Homo sapiens: one gene and its partner. The protein of the gene in region 1 interacts with the protein of each later gene in a biochemical or structural test. Each region holds a gene or a part of one and is shown in the gene's direction. Other genes may lie near its edges.

Region 1 (3,500 bases):
GAGGCGCAGGGAAGAGGGCGGTTTGGTTTGGAAAAGTGCAGCCCGAGAGGGAGCAGCAGGCTTTGGAGCAAGGTAAAGTTAAAATATCAGAGCTCTGGGAGACGCTGGCTTTTCGTTTTCCGAGGTTGCCGCGACGCCGCTGGACCTCAGGGGGCGCCCCCGAGCCACTGGTGGGGCTCCTGCCACCTCCACACTGGTCGGCCTCGGCCACCTCCACGCCTCAGGGATGGGGCGCGCGTGCCCGGGTTCCCAGGCTCTGGGGCTGCAGACGCGCCTTGGCGCGAGGCGGCGGCCTCGGCCTGGCGATGCTGCTCCTGGCTTTCTCGAAACCCGCTGGGGGCTGGAGTTAGCCTTGGGACCCCTACTTCTTGCCTGCTATGACCTCGAAAGCGCTTATCTGTTTGACATGAGGGATAAAAATGCTTCTGTTTTGGAGTAGGGTCGTCCTTGTGAGGTCTTAGCCAAAATCCCTTTTTATTTAGTATTTTTGTGTTTCCTCTCAGAATCATAACTCAGCATAACTCTTCAGTTGCATTTGAGTTCTCAGCTCCTGTTCAGGATATGGGTTAGCTGTAGTTTGGGCAGGGTTTTGGAAACACAGCCCTGGCATGAGCTTTTTCCCAGTGGATTGGAAACAGTGGATTTTAGTCTTTGAACAGCAGTGTGGCAGGTTTGGGATCCATTCAGGGTTAATAATGCTTCAAGTGATGCTTTCCAAGTGCAAAGCTAAGAGTGTTACCAAACATGATATTAGGCATATTACATTGCTATATACATCTTTATAAAGCACTGTAGAAACGTTTACAAAAATAGCAAAATATAATGGATCCCCCACCCAACTTCAACACTCACAACTCAATCTTCTCTCATCTCTTCCTCCCCAACACCTTATTATTTTAAAGCAAATCCTACACATAGTTCATTCAAACTCTGATACATATCTCCAATCACTGGGAATTTAATTGCCTCTGACACAGTATAAAATATGTTACTTCAGAGTGTTAACCTTTTATCTAGTTTACATTCTCAAGCTCAGCAGATTTTTTTTTTAATTGATTTTTGTCTTTCGGCCCTCAGAGTGAAACTCTGGTTTTGATATGTTTTGTATTGTAATTACATTATATCTAGGATGCTGCCATTGGAAACAGTTCAGATGGATAAGCTCAGCTGTGTACCTTGGATGTGTCAGAATTGGAGGCTCCATGATTAATGTCGGGTGAATCATGAATCTCCCTCTAAGCTGTCTCTTATTTTATTTGCATGTGCGGGCTTTAGTTCTGATGGGCATCCGTTATGGCCTTAGGAAAAGGCAAAAGTAATATTTGGAAATCAGCAATCTTTCTCTTTACAGGGTGTGAGATTGTACAGGTTTTTTTTCCCTCTCCCTCATGTATCATGTTTGAAAATGAAGAATCTTTACCCAGTCTCTAAACTGGGTTCCTTTGACACAGTTATGGAATAAAATCTTTGATGTTTCCTTCTAAACAGTGTTCACATTTGAGGGTTGATGGACTTAAAACACTAATAAAGATAGGCATAAACAGGGCCTTTTGGAAATAGGGGAAGTTGCTGTTGTTGCTGAAAGAAGAAAGGTCATAGGAAGGGTTGGCTGATGTGGGAAAAGTGACTATTCCATAGTGAAGCTTTGAGTATCTCCCATTAATTATGGACCTGTTTTCACTGAATAAAAGATTATGTTGTTGTTTACATGAAGCGATCCAGCGAATGCTGATGATTTAATGCAGCAAAACAAACAGCCCTTTCAGATTTGCCTTTCTATTCTAAACAGCTCCCAAGTTAACAGAGTAGAATCAGTTATACACCTGTGTGCTGATTGAAAGTAACTTCCTTGGCATTCACGTGAGATCACTTAAAATGCCCTAGAGTAGTTACTCAGGAGCCTCTCCTACTCCCTTGTCTCCCTGCCTTTTCCTGGAGACTTCTTTTCTTTTTTTGAGATGGAGTCTCACTCTGTCACCCAGGCTGGAGTGCAGTAGTGAGATCCTAGCTCATTGCAACCTCTACTTCCCAGGTTCAAGCGATTCTCCTGCCTCAGCCTCCTGAGTAGCTGAGTCTACAGGCACGTGCCACTATGCCTAGCTAATTTTTGTAATTTTGTGGAGACGGAGTGCCGCCATGTTGGCCAGGGTGGTCTTGAACTCCTGACCTCAGGTGCTCTGCCCACCTCGGCCTCCCAGAGTGCTGGGATTACATTGCTACTGGGCTGTTGCTTTAACACTTTGCTTTTACAGTGACACGTTGTTTGTTCTTTTTAAATCTTGATTTCCATTCAGCATGTGGGACAATGAAATGCCATTTCTAGGCAGGTTGAAGATTGCAATATGCGTACATTCTGAATTAAGAGATTTAAACAATTGTAGTTAATACTGTCATCCTGGGTTACATTTCATGTGGTCACATTCCATAACCCGGAGCTTATGGGAAAAATTTAGGGCATCTGAAGTTCCCTCTAAAGCACTTGGTGCCCAGAAATTAGCCCTTGGTTTGCTTTGGTTCAGAGTTGACCTCTGTTAGATGTTGGGTGGTGGTCACTGAAACTGTTTTCGGCTGTATCCTGTTTAGAGAATAAAAGGGCTGTTTTATTAATATTATAGAAGCCAAGGAGTACACTGCTCCCCACCTTTAATTTTCCACCTGAGCTTGATCTAGGTTAAGCAGCCACTGACGAGGTAGAGGGAGTGGCTCAGGAGGGACTCAGGAGGGGCTGAGAAGAGCCTGCTCTGTGAGGGCTTCTTGTGGGATTTGGCAATAGTCACTGAATTTGTCCCAGAATGAGGTTGCCTGTGCAAATGATTAAAAGATAAAACTGGGCACTGTGGCTCACTCCTATAATCACAGTGCTTTGGGAGGCGGGAGGGTCACTTGAGCCCAGAAGTTCGAGACCAGCCAGGGCAACATAGGGAGACCCTGCCTCTACAGATAATAAAAGAAAAATTAGCTGGGTGCACTCTTTTGTCCCCACTACTTGGGAGGCCAAGATGGGAGGATTGCTTGAGCCCACGAGGTTGAGGCCGCAGTGTACTGTGATCATGCCACTGCACTCCAGCTTGAGTGACACAGTGAGACCCTGTCTCAAAAAAAAAAAAAAAAAATTAAAAGATCAAATGTAGGCTGGGCATGGTGGCTCATGCCTGTCATCTCAGCACTTTGGGAGACCCAGGTGGGCAGATTGCTTGAGCCCAGGAGTTCAAGACCAGCCATGTGCAACATGGTGAGACCTCATCTCTACAAAAAATACAAAAATTAGCTGTACTTGGTGGTATGCGCCTGTAGTTCCAGCTACTCCAGAGGTGGAGGACAGGACTTTGGGGCTGCAATGAGCTGTGATGGTGCCACTGCTCTCCAGCCTGGGCGACATAGTGAGACCCTGCCTCAAAAAAAAAAAAAAAAAAAAGTTCATTTGCCAGTCTGAGAAATGGGAGCAACCATCTTACTTGGAAACAAACTATATCCAGGACTAGGGCAACATTCTGTGCACT
Region 2 (3,500 bases), on another chromosome or scaffold:
TGTGATGTATTCCTGTACGCAACGTTGCCCTGACAGCCAGTCCAAGCTGAGTCTAGAGCTGGCAAGGTGAGCTCCCAGTGGTAAGAGGGAAGTGGTTTGTTCTGCTTTTCTGAGATGTGTTCTTATGAGAAGGATCCAGCAGCAGCCTGCAGAGATGTGGGGCCTGAAAAGAGGCCTTGGGCAGCTCTTCTTGACAGGTCTTGGCCCTCTAGACTGCCTTCAGCACAGTTTTGGGGAGAAACAGGGAGTGTTCCTTTTTCAGTCTATGCACTCATCCCCTGAGCCGCCTGACCCAGGGTTTAGATGCTCCAGGGCAGCTGATTGACACCGGTGGGAGACGGAGTCTGGCAAGCAGGTGATGAACTGGGAAGCGCTGCAGAAATGAGGGGGCAAGCGTGGCCAGTCCCTTCTGAGAGGATGTGTTTGGAAGAGAGTGGGCACTGGCGTGGCACTTTCCCCTTCTGAGGAAATGGACAGGATGCCACGTGGTGCTGCAGTTCTGTGTGGGGCAGGTTGTGGCTGCAGAGAAGCCCTGGGTGCAGAAACAGTCCCCCAAGCAGGTGCGAGGGCCAGGGTGCTCTATGCTGCTCCACACCTGCTGTGCGATGACATGTGGCCACTGGGCTGCCCAGCACAGTTGTTTAGAAAGCAGGTTCAAAGGGCAGTGTGCTGGGAGGAAGTGCTGCTGTGGAAACTGCAAGTTTTGGACATGAGTTGCTCAGGTCTTTTCAGCCGTGCATTCTTCTACAGCAGAATTGCATTATTCACTTGCTCAGTGTGATACCATGTCCTTTAAAAAATTATTTGAATATTGAGAACAGGTTGTATGTTCCGTCTCTAGCTGCTAGATCACAGGCAGGGCACATCTTCTCAAAGAGTAACAAGGCATGGGTTGTGTGTGTTCTCTTCTCTTAGTGAGGAGAAAGGCCTGTTTGGGTTCATGATGATTGTTGGGGTCTCTTTTCTGTACCTGATGTTGGTTGCACAAAGTCCGTTTCCATTCTCTTAGTCTAGACAATTTTCCTGATATTTAAACTGGAATTTTTGCTCCAAGAAATTCCAGGTCATTTAGAATGTGTTAAGATTGAGTTTCTGGGCTACACATCCCTTATAAGAGCACCTGATTCTGGTTTCTGTTTGTTTATTTATTTATTTTTTCGAGACAGTCTCGTTCTGTCACGCAGGCTGGAGTACAGTGGCATGATTTTGGCTCACTGCAACCTCCGCCTCATGGGTTCAAGTGATTCTCGTGCCTCAGGCTCCCAAGTAGCTGGGATTACAGGTGCGCACCACCTACATTATTTATTTATTTAATTTATTTATTGAGATGAGGTCTCACTATGTTGCCCAGGCTACTCAAACTTCTGGTCTCAAGGGATCCTCCCGCCTCGGCCTCCCAAAGTGCTGGGATTACAGGCATGAGCCGCCGCACCCAGCCTGGTTTCTGTTTAAAGAGTTGGATTATACAGGGACCCACAGAATTGGGAACTGACAGTACTGTAGAGCCTGTGTATGAAAAAGATGGACAAGCCTGACATTAGCAGCTCACTGTTGAGCACACGGCCCCCTGCAGAATAAACAAGTGTGTGGTTTCCATCTGATGAAGGTGGGCATGTAGTTCCTGGACAGTCCAGTGACTTCCGTCATTCCACAGACAAGATCAGATGCCCTCTCTACCAGCCACCGTGCTGGGACCGGCCCAATCTGTGTTTCAAGTCAGCTTGTAGCACGCAGGGATTCGAAATATTTAAAGATGAGGTTTGAAGGTAGGTCTGGAGACCAAGGACGTTAGTTCTGGAGGTCCCCGTCTCCTGCGTGTTTGCGGAGCTGGTGACAGTGCCCTCTCCCCGTGCTGGAGAGGGCTGAGGAGAGGCTGTGTGTCTCAGCAGGATGCCAGTCAGGATTCTTCTGGCTATGGGCTTATTTTTTGCAATAAATTCATCGTTAAAGTCCCATTCTTTAACCTGTTTTTTCCCTTTTGGAATTAATTCGACTGCAGTAGGAAGGGGTTGTAGCTGAAAGTGACCGCTGTGCATTGAATGCCATCAGAAAAGGCTGATGAGATTTGCAGGGAAGACTTGAAGCCTCACTGAAATGCGCCTGGCGTGTGTTGACCTTTGCAGTGGAACATGTGGGAAAGGGGCCCGCACTCACTTTTCAGTTCTGCCTCGGTGATTCCAGGAGCCCCGGGGTTGGGAGCGGGGACAGGACCTTGCTCCTGAGTCTTAGGTGTGGTGTCTCTCGCCCCTTGCTGCATTGGCGGGACCCTCGGTGCCGCGGCCTCAGTTGCAGGGCGGCCAGGGCTGCTCCGTGAAGGAGGCGCTCACTCCATGGAGCTGCAGGACGCTGCATTCTCCTCACTCTGGCCATTGCCGCTGTCCTTCCTGCTTCCCCTTTTCTGGTGAGGGAGGGCTCCAAGGACTTGCTGGCTGGTCCCCAGATGCCAGCACTCCTGCATCTTCCCCTCCTCTCCTGGCCTGTCACTTTGTTCCTCCTCTGTGAGGGGCCCAGGCTCGGATGCCCGGCCACGGCCTCTCTTTCCAGCCTGTGCGGCCCAGGTGGGTCCAGGATGTTCCCTGCTGCCCTGTTCTCAGCAGTTCTTGTCTTCTTCAGGCTTTTCCTCCTTGCCTAGAGAAATTTCCCTACATGGAAACCCCTGTGGCTGTACAGTCTTTTCTGACCAGTCTGCTGGGTTTTTTGTTATTTGTTTTTTGTTTTTGAGACAGAATCTTGCTCTGTCGCCCAGGCTGGAGTGCAGTGGCACGATCTCGGCTCACCGCAACCTCCGTCTTTCAGGTTGAAGCAATTCTCCTACTTCAGCCTCCTGAGTAGCTGGGATTACAGGCACGTGCCACCGCACCCGGCTAATTTTTTTTTTTTTTTTTTGTAATTTTAGTAGAGACCGGGTTTTGCCATGTTGGCCAGGCTGGTCTCGAGCTCCTGACCTCAGGTGATCCGCCCACCTCGGCCCCCCAAAGTGGTGGGATTACAGGCGTGAGCCACCGTGCCCGGCCTGCTTTACTATATTCTTTAGGGAATCATGACAATAAAAAAAAGTCTGTGCATGTTCAGTACAGATGCAATTTCTTGTTTTTCTAATATTTTCTATCCACTGTTGGTTGAATCCATGCATGTGGAGTCAACCTATGGTTGGGGATGGCAGACTGTATGTACTCTCCTGATAGGTGGTTACAAAGTGTTTCTACCTGAAGAGACCTGGTTGCAAAGCAGCATGCCCAGTATAACTTTCCTCAGGCCCAGGGAAAAGCTTGGAGGGAGGTTCCCACAGAAATATTAGCAGTGGTTTCCTGGGCCAGTGGGATGAGGACCACACATTGAGCTAGCAGTGGAGAAACAGTGGTGAATAAGGTAGGTCTGGCTCTGTCTCCTGGAACTTACTGGACTGAGGATGAACCTTTCTCCACTAATTTTTGTTCTGAAAAATTTCAAAACCGAAGAATAGTTGAAAGCATAGTACAATGAATATCCCTAGCCTTTTC

What was found.
Region 2: of the proteins of PTPRG (region 1) and PDPK1, one has a biochemical effect on the other in vitro, tested with the Homo sapiens proteins (one large-scale study listed by IntAct).

Annotation. Positions count from the first base shown.
Region 1 is NC_000003.12:61,564,571-61,568,070, forward strand, and holds part of PTPRG (receptor-type tyrosine-protein phosphatase gamma isoform 1 precursor), read left to right. Parts: intron 1-3,500.
Region 2 is NC_000016.10:2,541,021-2,544,520, forward strand, and holds part of PDPK1 (3-phosphoinositide-dependent protein kinase 1), read left to right. Parts: intron 1-3,500. UniProt on the Homo sapiens protein: Serine/threonine kinase which acts as a master kinase, phosphorylating and activating a subgroup of the AGC family of protein kinases.